4 separate regions of the Homo sapiens genome follow, and all the other regions are linked to region 4. Evidence: fine-mapped expression QTL. A gene starts in region 4. Each other region holds a variant in brackets. All regions are shown on one strand. Distances are from middle to middle.

Evidence for each region. PIP is the estimated chance that this variant, and not a neighbour inherited with it, causes the effect.
Region 1: its variant is fine-mapped to the expression of PLAAT2 in kidney cortex (GTEx, PIP 0.99).
Region 2: its variant is fine-mapped to the expression of PLAAT2 in whole blood (INTERVAL, PIP 0.99).
Region 3: its variant is fine-mapped to the expression of PLAAT2 in rectum (CEDAR, PIP 0.95).

What each region holds. Positions count from the first base shown.
Region 1 is chr11:63,514,030-63,518,194 of GRCh38, forward strand. LGALS12 (galectin 12) reads left to right here. Exons shown (of 9, transcript NM_033101.4): 8 at 1,534-1,684; 9 at 2,218-2,743. The coding sequence ends at 2,364. Among named protein-coding and RNA genes, the nearest start is that of LGALS12, 10 kb to the left of the region's middle. The variant C/G (reference allele first, on the strand shown) is at 1,719.
Region 2 is chr11:63,695,486-63,699,650 of GRCh38, forward strand. The region is part of intron 1 of RTN3 (reticulon 3); the gene reads left to right. Among named protein-coding and RNA genes, the nearest start is that of RTN3, 16 kb to the left of the region's middle. The variant A/T (reference allele first, on the strand shown) is at 1,829.
Region 3 is chr11:63,519,237-63,523,401 of GRCh38, forward strand. It overlaps the pseudogene TMSB4XP5. Among named protein-coding and RNA genes, the nearest start is that of LGALS12, 15 kb to the left of the region's middle. The variant G/T (reference allele first, on the strand shown) is at 1,941.
Region 4 is chr11:63,561,654-63,565,818 of GRCh38, forward strand. It overlaps PLAAT2 (phospholipase A and acyltransferase 2), which reads right to left and starts at 1,726. Exons shown (of 4, transcript NM_017878.2): 1 at 1,663-1,726. The coding sequence starts at 1,671. RefSeq lists a silencer at 2,683-2,762.

The DNA.
Region 1 (4,165 bases), 48 kb before region 4:
GCTCCACGCAGTCCACTCTCCAGGGTTCCTGCCTTCCAAGCTTCTTCCCAACATTGGGCCCTGGCCACCTCCTTCCCAAAGTTGGAAACTTACGGGGCCTCCTCCTGTAAGGATCTACCAATAGCCCTTGAAAGGCCTGTCCAGGGCGGCCTTTTCCCCTACCTTACCTGCCTCTGCATCCCATCAGGATGCCGCGCCTTCTCCAGCATAGCTCTTCAAGAAGGAAACTTGGGAAGTTCCCAAGACATAAAAATAATCTGGGCCGGGCGCGGTGGCTCAAGCCTGTAATCCCAGCACTTTGGGAGGCCAAGGTGGGCAGATCACAAGGTCAAGAGATCGAGACCACCCTGGCCAACATAGTGAAACCCCATCTCTACTAAAAATACAAAAATTAGCTGGGCGGTGCGGGCATGCGCCTGTAGTCCCAGCTACTCCGGAGGCTGAGGCAGGAGAACTGCTTGAACCTGGGAGGAAGAGGTTGCAGTGAGCCGAGATCGTGCCACTGCACTCCAGCTTGGTGACAGAGCAAGACTCTGTCTCAAAAAAATAAAATAAAATAAAGAAAAATAATATAATCCGGTTGCCCTATTTGAGAGGCAGGTGCCAGATCCCCCCACCCCCAAATCTAGAGTCATGAATCCTAGTTCACATCCTAACCTAAGGCCCTACCACTATTACTAGTAACAGAGAAGTCATTTAACTTCTTGTCCTCATCACTTAAATGGGCTGACAAACCTCACAGCACAGAATTTGTGAGGATTAAGGAAAGGCAAACTAGCTTCTGTAAAACACCTACTGTGTGCTAGGAATTGCTAGTTTTCACATACATTATCTCCTTTGTTCCTTTTTTTTTTTGGCTCTATGAGGTAGAGATTGTATTATATAGCAATATTTTTAAACAATAGGTATCATCTGAATGCTTATTACGTTCCAGGTGCTATTCTAAATAAGCATTTTTTTATGTATTCATTTAATTCTTACAACAATGCCACAGGCAGGTACAGGGCAGTTATGTTATCGTCACATTACAGATGAGGAAACTGAGGCACAGAGAGATTAAGAGTCTTGCCCAAGGTCACAGGACTAGAAAGTAGCAGAGCCAGGGTTGAATCGGGACTGCCTGACTCTAACCACTATGCTGTTTGGAAAACATTTAAGATAATACCTGGCACTTAGTTAGCATTCAATAAATGTTAGCTGTAGCTATCATCATCATAATCATCCCCATTTTCAGGAGGAGAAACTGAAGCTCAGGCTAGGCAATTTTCACACACTTCCCTCCCACCCCCATCCTCCTGTAGTCATAGATGGCAACCCTGGAGGTCAATCTCAAGTTCATCTAGAACTCGTGTTCTTTCCACTGTTCTGAGCATTCAGCCATGAGGCTGTCATAGGCCCTCAGTGCTTGTTTCTGGAGGCTGAAGCAGCTCAACCTTCCATCCACTCCCTGACCTCCATCCTTCCCCTGGGGGCTGAGCAGCGGCCTATGGGCAATGGGCGCTGATTCCTTCTCCTTCCTCCTGCTTCCTGCAGTTTTACTGTGAGCCTGAGGGACCAGGCTGCCCATGCTCCTGTGACACTCAGGGCCTCCTTCGCAGACAGAACTCTGGCCTGGATCTCCCGCTGGGGGCAGAAGAAACTGATCTCAGCCCCCTTCCTCTTTTACCCCCAGAGATTCTTTGAGGTAGGTCAGAGCCAAATGATTACATCCCTTCAGG[C/G]TGGAGCACAGAGCTGAAGTCCCATAATGACCTGGGAGATGCTGGGGCAGGTGTGCAGGACAGATGTTATGGGGTGGGAGGCCAGAGCCAGCAGAGCACAGCGAATGTCTGTACAGCAGTCCTCAACGCTCCACTCTGATGCCAGGGATCCCATGGCCAGAAACTCAATTGATGCAGGTGGGGGGGGGCCCAGGCATCAGCTTTATTAAAAAGCTCCCCTAATGATTCCGACGTGCAGAACCACTCCTCTACAGGAAGCAGCCCCAGTTACAGGTGGTGAAACTGAGGCCCAAGGCTGGGAAGATCCTTGTCAAAGACCACAGTGGGCTGGTGACAAGCCGGGCCCCTTATCCTGTTCTTTTCCAGCACTGTACTGGGTGCCCCCTGGGTCCAGTCTTCGTGTCCTATGAGAGGAGGAGGGTCTCACTGGAGAGAGCGTCAGGCAGACAAGGGAAAGTCTGGCTGGAAGCTGCAACCCCCTCATGTCCTCCTTTCCCAGGTGCTGCTCCTGTTCCAGGAGGGAGGGCTGAAGCTGGCGCTCAATGGGCAGGGGCTGGGGGCCACCAGCATGAACCAGCAGGCCCTGGAGCAGCTGCGGGAGCTCCGGATCAGTGGAAGTGTCCAGCTCTACTGTGTCCACTCCTGAGGATGGTTCCAGGGAAATACCGCCAGAAAACAAGAAGGTCAGCCCACTCCCAGGGCCCCACTCTCCTCCCCTCATTAAACCATCCACCTGACACCAGCACATCAGGCCTGGTTCACCTCTGGGGTCACGAGACTGAGTCTACAGGAGCTTTGGGCCTGAGGGAAGGCACAAGAGTGCAAAGGTTCCTCGAACTCTGCACCTTCCTCCACCAGGAGCCTGGGATATGGCTCCATCTGCCTTCAGGGCCTGGACTGCACTCACAGAGGCAAGTGTTGTAGACTAACAAAGATACTCCAAAATACAATGGCTTAAAGAATGTGGTCATTTATTCTTTATTATTTATTTATTTGTGGTCAAATAAATAAATAAGGTTATTTATTTATTTCGTTCTCATCTAGCAATTCTAGAGACAATGGTCCAGCTTAGCAGGGCAGCTCTGCTCCCTGGAGACATTCAGGGTCTGTCCTAGCCATTGTTCCACCACCCCCAGGGCATCATCATTGTCTCTGTGGCCCAAGCTCAGCTGCCACCCTATCTTGGCCTCACCCACTGAGAAGGCTAGTAGTGGCAGTGGACAAGACCCACCTGATATCATAAGCCCCAGACATGGGTCCGACACACACCAGCTACAGTCACATTTCATCTGCAGGCACTCAGTCTCGGTCACACTACCTGCAAGGGAGGCTGGAAATGTTCTTCAGTGGGACACATAAGACCAGCCACATGAAATAGAGTAGTCATAAAATAACAGAATAGTTTTATTCTATTACTATAAAAAACAGGGAGAATGGATTTTGGTGGATAGCCACAGTCTCTGAGACAAGTAGATGCTGTTAATATCCTCATTTTATAACATAAGAAACTGACGCACAGAAAGGCTAATTTGCCAAGATCACACAGTGAGTAAGTCATGGGATTAGAACCCAGGGATTCTGTCTGCAGAGTTTGCGGCTCTTAACCATAAACCATTATCTAGAGTACACAGGCACACTAGAGCTTCCAGATAAAGATGGACATCGGAGCTGGAGGCTTGAGAGGAATCAAAGAACCTTGCAAGTCGAAAAGTACAGACAAGACAAACGAAGGACCACCACCAAGGAAAGAGCAAGATTAAATGAGAAATAATTTAAGAATTATATATAACTGTATATAATATATACCATATATACATATATATAGCATAGTATACATTATACAGTAATATATGTGCCATGGTCTGAATGTTTGTGTCCTCCCAACTAAAATTTATATGTTGAAATCCTAGCACCCAAGGAAATGGTGTTTGGAGGTGGGGACTTTGGAGGGTGATTAGGTCATGAAGGTGGAGCCTTCATGAATGGGATTAGTGCCCTTATAAAAGAGACTCCAGGCCGGGCGAGGTGGCTCACGCCTGTAATCCCAGCACTTTGGGAGGCCAAGGCAGGCAGATCACCTGAAGTCAGGAGTTCGACACCAGCCTGGCCAACATGGCAAAACCCCGTTTCTACTAAAAACACAAAAATTAGCTGCGCATGGTGGCACACGCCCGTAATCCCAGCTACTCAGGAGGCTGAGGCAGGAGAATCGCTTGAACCCGGGAGGCAGAGATTGCATTGAGCCAACATCATACCACTGCACTCCAGCCTGTGTGACAGAGCCAGACTCTGTCTCAAAAAAAAAATATATATATATAAATAAAATAAAAGAGACTCCAGAGAGCTCCCTCACCCCTACCACCATGTGAGATTACAGCAAGAAAACAGGCGTTTATGAAATGGGAAGCAGGCCTTCACCAGAAACAAAATCTGCCAGTGCTTTGCTC
Region 2 (4,165 bases), 130 kb after region 4:
CAGTGTGGAAGGGTGGGGAGAAGTACTGCTTCCTCCAACCAGGTGGAGAATCCTGGCAAGCACTACCTCAGCCAGGGATCAGGTTAACATCATCAGTTGATAAGTCATGTTGATAGTCTGTACTCTTGATATGCTGTGATGAGCATGGCCCTTGGTATTCTTCCCGAAAAGCCATCACTCCAGTCTAACCATGAGAAAAACATCTGACAAATTCAAATTGAGGGACATTCTGTAAAATATCTGACCAGAGTCTTATTAAAACTGTCAAGAGAAGTCTGAGAAGCTGACAGTCCAGAAAAGGCTAAGGAGACATGATGACAAAATGTGATATGGTATCCTGGATAGGATCTTGGGAAGAGAAAAGGGGCGTTAGGGAAAAATTAAAGGGGATCAAGAAAGAAGGACAGAGTGAGACCTTACTTCTCTAAAAAATAATAAATAGTAAGTAAAAATTACCTTTGTAATATTCTTTTTTATTAGAATACGATGAACATCTCTTAGTGTCAATAAATTCCCATCTACAACCCAGTTGTTAATGACTTATCCTATTGTTTGGATATATGAAACTTAAACGGTCTAATTATTAGACCTTTGTTAAGTTTCCTTTAAAAAAAAAAAAAAAACCTATTTTAAGGAATATTGTGATGAGGCCGGGCCTGGTGGCTCATGCCTGTAATCCTAGCACTTTGGGAGGCTTAGGCGGACAGATCTTGAGGTCAGGAGCAACATGGTGAAACCCCGTCTCTACTAAAAATAGAAAAATTAGCCAGACGTGATGGTGCGTACCTGTAATCCCAGCTACTCAGGAGGCTGAGGCAGGAGAATCACTTGAACCTGGGAGGTGGAGGTTGCAGTGAGCCGAGATCACACCACTGCACTCCAGCCTGGGCAACAAAACAAGACTCTGTCTCAAAAGGAAAAAAAAAGAATATTGTGATGAAGCCAGGTGCGGTGGCTCACGCCTGTAATCCCAGCACTTCGGGAGGCTAAGGTAGGAGGATGGCTTGAGCCCAGGAGTTCAAGACCAGCTTGGATAACATAGTGGGGCCCTGTCACTATTTTTTTTTTTTTTTTTTTGGAGACGGAGTCTTGCTCTGTTGCCCACGTTGGAGTACAGTGGTGCCATCTTGGCTCACTGCAACCTCCACCTCCCGGGTTCAAGCAATTCTCCTGCCTCAGCCTCCCGAGTAGCTGGGATTACAGGTGCCTGCCTCCACACCCAGCTAATTTTTGTATTTTTAGTAGAGACAGGGTTTCACCATGGTTGGCCAGGCTGGTCTCGAACTCCTGACCTCAGGTGATCCACCCTCCTTGGCCTCCCAAAGTGCTGGGATTACAGGCTTGAGCCACCACACCTGGCCCCTGTTGCTATTTTCTTTCTTTCTTTCTTTCTTTCTTTTTTTTTTTTTTTTTTTTTGAGATGGAGTCTTGCTCTGTCGCCCAGGCTGGAGTGCAGTGGCGTGATCTTGGCTCACGGCAAACTCCGCCTCCCGGGTTCACGCCATTCTCCTGCCTCAGCCTCCTGAGTAGCTGGGACTACAGACGCCTGCCACCATACCCGACTAATTTTTTGTATTTTTAGTAGAGATGGGGTTTCACCATGTTAGCCAAGGTGGTCTTGATCTCCTGACCTCGTGATCTGTCCGCCTCGGCCTCCCAAAGTGCTGGGATTACAGGCGTGAGCCATCGCGCCCGGCCCCGTTGCTATTTTAAGAAAATTTTAAAAATAAGAATATCGTGATGAATAATCTTATAGCCACATATTTGCACTGGTTATTTATTGGAATTAGATTTTCAGCAGGTCCACTTATGCTTTTTTTTTATTTTT[A/T]TTTTTTTTTGAGATAGAGCCTCACTCTGTCGCCCAGGCTGGGGTGCAGTGGTTCCATCTCAGCTCACTGCAACCTCCGTGTCCCAGATTCAAGCAATTCTCCTGCCTCAGCCTCCCAAGTCAAGTAGCTGGGATATGTGCCACCACACCCAGCTCATTATTATTATTATTATTATTTTGAGACGAAGTTTCACTCTTATCCCCCAGGCTGGAGTGCAATGGTGCGATACTGGCTCACTGCAACCTCTGCCTCCTGGGTTCAAGCAGTTCTCCTACCTTGGCCTCCCGAGTAGCTGGGATTATGGGCACCTGCCACCACGCCTGGCTAATTTTTGTATTTTTAGTAGAGACAGGGTTTCACTATGTTGGCCAGGCTGTTCTTGAACTCCTTCCCTCAGGTGACCTGCCCGCCTTGGCCTCCCAAAGTGCTGGCATTACAGGCGAGAGCCACCGCGCCCGGCCCACCTGTGCTTTTTCAATCCCATATCTTCTAGCAATTTTGTGGGCTTTGTTCCAGAAAAAATTGTTTCTTTTTTATGTATTTTCAGACTTTTTTCTTCATTGGCTCCTTTCTGTCTTTCTGTAAATATACTTGTCATTTTCATTTCTAAAAAACTTTCCCTCAACGTTGCCTCTCCCTATAGCTGCTGCCCAGTTTTTAGTTCTTCCCTTTATCACCCGTATTTCCCATACTTTTTGTTTTCAGTGTTTTTTAAACTTACCTTCACTCCTCAGTCTTCAGTGTCTGTTCCCTCCCCCTCTACCACTCTCATTTTAGTCATCAATGCGAAATTAATTTCTGTGACCCTTTTCATAGTCTTTTTTTTTTTTTCTTTAAAACAGTGTCTCACTCTTGCCCAGGTGCCATGGCTCAATCTCAGCTCACTGCCACCTCCGCTTCCTGGGCTCAAGTGATCCTTTCAGCTCAGTCCCCCCAAGTAGCTGGGACTACAGGAGCAAGCCAGCATGCCTGGTTAATTTTTGTATTTTTTTGTAGAGATGGGATTTCACCATGTTGCCCAGGCTGGTCTCAAACTGCTGAGGTCAAGCCATCCACCTGCTTTGGCCTCCCAAAGTGCTGGGATTACAGGCATCAGCTACTGCGTCTGATTGTTTTTCATAGTCTTAATTTAGCCATTCAATGGCTTTGACTCTTAACCATTCTCTAAAGCATTCTCCAAATGGCACCATTTTTTCCTTTCTTGACTTCTTTCTGTTTTCTTCACTGGTCTTTCTTTCTTGATCCCCTTTAAATACACATATTTTAAAATTTCTCTTCATGCCATCTGGTAAGATCAAGTGGCCAATCTCAGCATACCTGGGAAACTTAACATGATCTAAGATCACTGAGGAACCATTGACTCCAGATACTGTCTTGTACATGAGGCAAGGCTGGGAGAGGTTGTTCCGACTGACTGCCAGCACCTGCTCCCGAGCTCCTACCACTGGCCCCTTTAAATATTGAGATACCTCAAGATTCTTTTGTAAAACTTCTGTATTTCTTCCTGGATGAAGGTATTCACTGCAGTGGTGTCAGTTCTCACCCAAATGTTAATTCCCAGATATTTATCTACAGCATTTACCTCTCTCCTGAGCCTGTCCCTATTACTGCACTGCCTGTTCAACAGTTGCCACTTATATATGCCTTAGGCAACTTTTTTATATTGAAAGTTAATAATATAAGGGATTCCTGGCCGGGCACAGTGGCTCACGCCTGTAATCCGAACACTTTGGGAGGCCAAGGTGGGCGGGTCACTTTAGGTCAGGAGTTTGAGACCAGCCTGCCAGCATGGTGAAACCCCACTAAAAATACAAAACCCCTACTAAAAATACAAAAATTAGCCGTGTGTGGTAGCATGCACCTGTAATCCCAGCTACTCAGCAGGCTGAGGCATGAGAATCACTTGAACCTGGGAGGCGGAGGTTGCAGTGAGCTGAAATCACACCACTGTACTCCAGCCTGGGCGGGCGACAGAGCTGAGACTCCTTCTCAAAAAAAAAAAAAAGAATTCCTTCTGTGTTCCCAACCATGGCATTTCATTTAGTCCCTCAGTGATCTTTTACTTCTCCAGTCTTTAACATCCAGGCAGATGGTCTCAAGACCTGTCTTCTCTCTTGTCAGCAGTCCTCTCATTCCCATCCTCACTGCCTTAGTGCGAGCCCTTATCTCTTGCCAAGATTATGCAGTAGCTTTTCAGTTCCGTCCATGCTCTACCCTGCTGCCAGAGTTCTTTCTAAAACACGTGATATTGTCACACCCTTACTTAAAAACCTTCAGTGATTCCTTATTACACAAAGGATATAATCCAGATTACATGGCATTTAAAGCCATTTGGA
Region 3 (4,165 bases), 42 kb before region 4:
GCCCACCTCGGCCTCCCAAAGTGCTGGGATTACAGGCGTGAGCCACCATGCCCAGCCGGACTTGTATGTTAATTGCAGCACTATTCACAATAGCAAAGACATGGAATCAACCTAGGTGCCTGTCAACAGAGGATTGGATGAAGAAAATGTGGTGCATATACACCATGGATTACTACACAGTCATAAAAAAGAATGAAACTATGTCCTTTGCAGCAACATAGATGCAGCTGGAGGCCATTATCCTTAGTGAATTAACAGAAGAACAGAAAACCAAATACCATATATTCTCACTTATAAGTAGGAGCTAAACATTGGGTGGTCATGGACAAAGAGATGGCAATAGACTCTGGGGACTACTAGACTGGAGGGAGAAAAGAAGGAAGGAATGGGAGAAAGGGTTGAAAAACCATTGGGTATTATGCTCACTACCTGAGTGACGGGATAATTCACACCCCAAACCTCAGCTTTACACAATATACAAACCTGCACAGGTACTCTCTGAATCTAAAATAAAAGTTGAAATTATTTTTTAAAAGAAGATAAACCTCAATTTCCACAAATGTTTTATAGGATATTTTTATTAAAATGTATTCTGTGTATAGATTTTTAGGGGCACAGAGGAGCTTGCATCTCTACATTGCTTCTTCCCAATCATATATACAGTATATCCCTCAATTTATTTTGGTCATCCTTTATTTCCTTCTGTCACTGGGAAACCAAGTTCTTTCCTTACTTTGTATTGATAGCCAAGAAAGAATATCCAATTGGAAAAAAAGGCAAGCAGATTTTATTGCTGGTCAGGAACGGAGGAGTGAGCTCTTTTTCTAAAGAACCCCTTCCGAAGGTGATGGAATCCAGGGAACTTTAAGGAATTAGATGTGGGGCGGGGAGGTATGTATGTAAGCATGTACAGGGAGGAACTCCAGATGTGCAGTTACAGATCATAAACATGCTTCTTCATATGAGGTATGTTCAGAAAATGGCAGCAATTTTCTTCTAGGGGTGGGGATTTGATATGGTTTGGCTATGTCCCCACCCAAATCTCATCTTGAATTCCCATGTGTTGTGGGAGGGACGCAGTGGGAGGTAATTGAATCATGGGGGCAAGCCTTTCCCAGGCTGTTCTCGTGATAATGAATAAGTCTCCTGAGATCTGATGGTTTTAAAAAGAGGAGTCCCCCCCTTTTTTTAAAAAAGTTTTTAAACTTCTATTTGCATATTTTTGAAAATTTTGCATTCCAATACTTAAAATCATTTGAACAAAAAAAAAATGGCACTCTGATTAAACAGTATTACAGGCTGCATGACACCTTGGGCCAGCTTGGTTTTACTCTAGATTTCATTGTTGTCCCACCCCACTTTTTCCACCCCACTTCTTCCTTCACCAACATGCACGTTCTTTCCTTTTCTGCCAGCCAGAAAGTCAGATGGGAGTGGCAGGCTTGGCCTTCATTGTCAGTAGTTCTTTGGTGTGAAAGGGGCAGCAGAGTCATTTAAACTTGATCCAACCTCTATGCATCTTACAAAGTTAAACAGCTAAAATAAGTAAAATAAGAAAGCAATGCTTGTGGAATGTACAGTGCATATTGGCAGCACATGCCTCATTACGATTCACCAGCTTGCTTCTCCTGTTCAATCATTTCTTTGGAAGGCAGTGGATTTTTCTCTTGCACTTCTGTCTTCTTCAGTTTCGACTTATCTCTTTGCCTCTGCCATCCATGTAAGATGTGACTTGTTCCTCTTTGCCTTCCACCATGATTGTGAGGCTTCCCCAGCCATGTGGAACTATTAGTCCAATTAAACCTCTTTATTTTGTAAATTGCCTAGTCTCAGATATGTCTTTATCAGCTGCGTGGCCTAATACAGGACTTTAGCATTATAATGATACGTTAATGATCTGAAGGTAACAAGGCATCACCAGCTCAGTTTGCTGGGGTCTT[G/T]CTCTGACCTTATCTTCCTCTAGTAATTGCCAAAGAGTCCTGAGGCTCCAGCAGCCTCCTGGGCCATCTGAAGTTCTCTTAAGCAAACATACCTGTAGGTAAAATGATTTAAAAACCTGTTTAAGGAAGAACAATGAGCTTTCTTAGTTATCTACTGTTTAAGAAAATAACAAGCTTTCTCAGCTATGTCTCCAGGGTTGCTCTGGTAACATAAGATGTGTGTGTTTGTTTTTACTGGGGCATCGCACAACTTTTGTTAGATTTATACTTAGGCACTTTATAGCTTTGTGTGTGATTTGTAAATGCTATCTTTTTAAAAAATTGTACTTACTTGATACTGGTACAAAAATGCACCTGATTTATGTATATTAATCTCGTTCCTAGCAAACTTGCTAAAATTATATATATTTTATTAGTTCAAATAGACAATCTTGCCCTGGCACAGTGGCTTACACCTGTAATCCCAGCGCTTGGGGAGGCCGAGGCAGGTGGATCGCTTGAGGTCAGGAGTTTGAAACCAGCCTTGCCAACATGGCGAAACTCCGTCTCTACTAAAAATACAAAAAATTAGCTGGGCATGGTGGCACATGCCTGTAATCCTGCCTACTCAGGAAGCTGAGGCACAAAAATCTGTTGAACCCAGGAGGCAGAGGTTGCAGTGAGCCGAGATCACACCACTGCACTCCAGGCTGGGGGACAGAGCAAGACTCTGTCTCAATAAATAAACAAACAAACAGATAGGTAATCTTACCACTTGCAAAAAATAATGATTTCTGATTTCTTCCTTTCCAATCTCCCTCTCCCTCTCTGTCTCTCACTCTTCCCCCCACTCCCAACCACATTCCCTCGCTTCCTTCCTCTCTCCCTCATGCTTCCTTTATTATATGACATTGGCCAAGAATTCTTGCACACTGTTGAGTAGCAGTGTGGTTAGCAGGCATCCTTGACCTGTTCCTGACCACAGGGAAATGCAATTAAGATTTCACTATTAAATATGATGATTATCATAGGTTGGGAATAGATACTATTTTTAGGGTAAAGAGATTTTCATTTTTTCTTAGTTTGTTAAGATACACTTTCATTTTTTTCATGAGTGAGTGTCAAGTCTGTCTTCTGCGTTTACTGATATGATCATATTTTTTCTAATCTGTTAATGAGGTAAATTACATTAATAGGCTTTCTAATTTCATGCTATAAGTATCTTTAAATTCCTTAAATTCCTGGAGTAAATGAATTTTTAATGAATACATTGCTGCATTTCATTTACTGATACTACTGTTCTTGCATTAAGTTCATAAATTAGCTTATAATTTTACTTATCCATCCATCAATACTATCATAGCCTTAGATTCTGGATTGTCTCTTTTCTGTGCAAGGTCATCAATTGTTTATATGTACTCTAGGTCTTTAATCCATAGATTCCATCTTCCTTTCTTTTTTTCTTACATTTTATTGTTGGGGATAAAACTGATAACTTTTCCTTATAGAGCTTCTCAGAGTCTGAATTCTGCTGGTTAATCCCTAGGGCATTGTTTAAAATACTCCACTGTCTCCTGTACTTCTTTTCATCTAGAGTTTTGATCAGATTCAGTTTCAATTTTTCAGCAAGAAAACCAAAACTACTATCTTATTCCCTAAATGTTTCTTTTTTAATTTAATTTAATTTTATTTATATATATTTTCTTGAGAGAGTCTCAACTCTGTCACCCAGGCTGGAATGCAGTGGCGCAATCTCAGCTCACTGCAGCCTCCACCTCCCAGGTTCAAGTGATTCTTATGCCTCAGCCTCCTGAGTAGCTGGAATTACAGGTGTGCTCCACCACTCCTGGCTAATTTTTGTATTTTTAGTAGAGATGAGGTATCGCTATGTTAGCCAGGCTGGTCTCAAACTCCTGACCTCAAGTGATCCACCTGCCTCAGGCTCCCACAGTGCTAAGATTCCAGTCATGAGCCACCATGCCCAGCTAAATATTTCTTTTTTTATAGCCTCCTGTTCTTGTTTCCTGAATATATTTTCTCTTCTCTCTTCCATGATATAAATTATAGGGAGCCGAAGACCCGTGGGATGTGACCAACTCAGCATTCCACTGGAGGCTATATGATCAAACAGCAAACTGTTTATCATAAATGCAGGATGTGAGCAAACTCACGACTGCTCCTGCCGACACAATGTTTGCTGAGGGCAATCGCTTCCTGGCACCAAGTTCCTTGAGGTTATCTACTGG
Region 4 (4,165 bases):
AAAAAAAAAAAAAAAAAAGACTACGCATTGGGTACCGAGTACACTGCTGAGATGATAGGTACACCAAAATCTCAGACATCACCACTAAAAACTAATTTATGTAACCAAATACCACATGTTCCCCCCCAGAACCTCGAAATTTAAAAAAAAGTAAAGCCTTTGACTAGAGGGGTCAAGAGTCAACTTGACCAAATAAGGGACAATTTGAGCATCAAAAAAAAATAATAAAAATAACTGTACACAAACTGAAACACATCAAATATGTTAAAACCCACGTGTTCATAAGGATATTTTTTAAAAACACTAGGCATCTTTGGAGGATGGAAAAGAATCACCCTATTATTCCAAAAGCTGGTAAATAAAGGAAAAGATTCAAGCATTTCCTAACTGAATTGTCCTCACGGAATGCAATTTAAAACTACAACAAACCCCAAAGCTACAAACCAATACTTGTAAGGTAGCCATATATGTATGCAAAAACAGAAAAATATTTGGAAGAATACGCACCAGGTTGTACAGAGGGGAAAGGCTGTACAGATGGGAAGGATGGTCAAAGGGGACATTAGTTTTTATGCTAATAGTTTTGGTTTTTGGCTTTTGGCTTTTTTTGAGACATGATCTCATTTTGTCACCCAGGCTGGAGTGCAGTGGCACTATCACAGCTCACTGCAGGAAGCCTCAGCCTCCCCAGCTCAAGTGATCCTCCCACCTCAGCCTCCCAAGAAGCTAGGACTATAAGCACATACCATTATCCTTGGCTAATTTTAATATTTTTTGTAGGGATGGGATCTCACTATGTTGCCCAGGCTAGAGTTTCGGTTTTTCAGACAAAGTGAATGTGTTCACGTATTTCTCCTGGAATTAAATACATTCTTTCTTTTTTAAGTCGAAGCTTTAGAGTCAGAGCCTCCTAAGTTCGAATTCCCTCTCTGACTTTTGGGCAGCCCCCTCTCTATACTTACCAGTATATCATTCCTCCTATCCATGAAGTTGGCAGTAATTATGCCTACTTCATAGGATTGCTTATTAACTACCTGGTGTGGATTAAATAAAAGAAGTGTTTAGCATGGTGTCTGGACCCCTGAGCACTTGGGAAATGTGGCTGCTATTGGGTCTAAAGGAAGAAGGAAACTAAGAAGGAATTGGAGGGAAGGAGGGAAAGTAGAGGGACTGGCCCTGCCTGGAGGCGAGGGAGACAGAGCCCTTTCTGACAGCCCCCATTGCCACCCACACAGCTGGAGCCCTTTCCCTGGACCCTCCCTCCCCAGCTAATCCCTCCCACTGAGGATGATGTGACAGAGGAGGCGGCCTGTGGGGTAAACCAAGGGCTGCTCTCCCTGAGCCCACCATTCCTGCCTTCAGGAGGCTTAGCAGAGCCACTGGTAGTTTGGCCAGAGGAGGGCTTGGAAAAGCATAAACGCAAACTTTGGCCACAGTAGAACCAGACCCCATGCGGCAGCTGAGGCTGGGGAGCCTCCAGGGTCATAACCCAGCACCGTGGTTCCTTCCCACAGTGTCTGAGAGAGCCAGACCCCCAGAACTCAGCATGTGCCCATGTGCCCTCCATGCCAGAGCTGTAGACCAACAAGAATACACATAATCATCACTAATAGGGTGGTTGTTCCTCAAATCAAAGCTTTAAAACCGTTTCTGGGGACTTACCAAAGCCATCCTTCCTTCAAGATGATGTCTTGTGTGTTGCTGACTCTGTGTCCAGCCTTAAATTAGCTCTGAGTTTCACTTTCCCTGTGACCCAGCCCATATACAACTATTTCAGAACATAGGCTGGGTGCGGTGGCTCACACCTGTAATCCCAGCACTTTGAGAGGCTGAGGCGGGAGGATCACAAGGTCAGGAGATCGAGACCATCCTGACTAACACGGTGAAACCCCGTCTCTCCTAAAAAATAGAAAAAATTAGCTGGGCATGGTGGTGGGCACCTGTAGTCCCAGCTACTCCAGAGGCCGAGGCAGGAAATGGCGTCAACCCAGTAGGCAGACCTTGCAGCGAGCAGAGGTCGTGCCACTGCACTCTAGCCTGGGCGGCAGGGCGAGACTCAGTCAAAAAAAAAAAAAAAAAAAAAACAGAACATAGATCAAGGTTCATGTAAAATTTTCCCTGTCTTCAAACAGGGGCAGAGCACATATCAAGTAGGCAAGGCGGCATGAAAATCAGCCAGACAGAAGAGGAATCAGAGCTCAGGATATAGATTGAGAAGGACTTAGTGGCAGTGTGGTCAGGGGCACAGCTGACAATCACCAAGTTTCAGGTGGAACAAGCAAGATCCAGTGGTTGTGGGGGCAAGGGAGGATATAGAGACAGAGACCATGGGGGAAAATTTCAAAAAGGAGAGAGGAGCCCCAGAGAGACTGAGATTCATGCCTCCAAATTGGGAATGATGGTTGCCGGGACAGGCAAACATTTCCACCAACCTCAAACCCCATGGCCCTAGAAAAATCGTATTATTGGAGGCACATTCCTCTACCCTGGAAACAGAGTGAGCCTGCTTGGACAGCAGTATAGAAACCACTCCCCTTTCTGCCTCTCACCCACAGTTCAGAAACACTCATTCCACACCAAATGGAAACCAAAACCCAGTACTGGGTGTGTAGAGGTTGCTTCTTTGAGGCACCTGCATGCTTATCTCACCCAAGCTCCAAATAAGTATCTCTTCTGTCATCTACATATAGTTGTCCGGTCCTGAGCAAACTGGACAGGAAGGGGTGGGTGGGGCTGGGGGGAGCTGAGCATCCTCACTGTGGGGCATGGGGGCGAGGACCAATAACTTACCCTCTTCAGGCTATAAACAAACAAACAAACAAAGAGCTTTAGTGTGGGGATGCAGATGGACTGGAGCCAGAACTGGAAAACTCTTTGGGAGCCACAGCAGTTCTGCATGACCAGCTACTCCCTCAGCTCACGTGGTCATGTGGTCTTGCTCCCATGGAGACGGCCTCTCTCAGCACCTCCACTCCATTCTCCTCTGAGTTGCAGTGGGACAATCTTCAAAGTATTCCTTCTGGAGGGAGACAGTAGGGTTGGCTTGGCTAATTATCTCCTGCCCCATTGTCCAGAGACCTCTGGGCCGGTCCCACTCAGGCTTGCTGATCATCTTTTTAGGGGCTGACCTCCAGTCCAGCAATCTCAGTTCTTCCTATGCCTGCCCTCCCCTTGCAACCACATCACACCCCTGTTTCCTGGGGCAGGAGGACTTCCACGTGCTGTCTGCTGAAAGGATCTCAGGTGGGTTGGCACAATGACCAACCAGACCATGCAGGGCGGAGTTGGGGAGGAACATCACTGTACTCATGCTGGGGCTTGTGGCTTTTCACCGAATCCAAGCTGTTCAGAGTGTCAGGAAATTATGTCCAGGAGCTATAGGAAAGGAGAGTCTGCAAATCAAGGGCCAGTGGAATGAGAATTCTGCTGTCTCCCTACTGTTCATGCTGAGCAGGAAAGGTGACAAAGTTCTACTGACAGAGAACAGGGTAGGGCAGGCCACACCCAGCCTGCTGGTAAGCTCTAGGCCTACAGCCTGGAATACTTACATTTTTGTTCACATGCACGCTCTCTATGTTTGTTTAATTGTATAAAAGGCTATAAAAGGAAAGATAAGCCTCCATTCTCCCCACCTCCAGCCTCCAGCCTCCAGCAACCCAGTTCCCCTTTCTAGAGGCAATGTTATCTTTCTATGTACATGCCAGGAATATCTTGGGCTACATATAATTTTAATGGGCTTTGGCCGGGCACAGTGGCTGATGCCTGTAATCCCAGCACTTTTGGAGGCCAAGGTGGGTGAATCACTTGGGTCAGAAGTTCGAGACCAGCCTAGCCAACATGGCAAAACCCCGTCTCTACTAAAAATACAAAAATTAGCTGGGCTTGGTGGCGCACGCCTGTAGTCCAGCTGCTCGGGAAGCTGAGGCAGGAGAATCTATTGAACCTGGGATGCAGAGGTTGCAGTGAGCCAAGATCACGCCACTGCCCTCCAGCCTGGGTTACAGAGTGAGACTATGTCTCAGAAATAAATAAATAAATAAATAAAGGATTTTATTAAATCTTATATCCATATAGAAGAATAATTGCAACATAAGTATAAAACACTAGAAATAATAACAAAACAGGTACCAATAAACCTAGTTGAAGAAATAGAAAATAACCAATT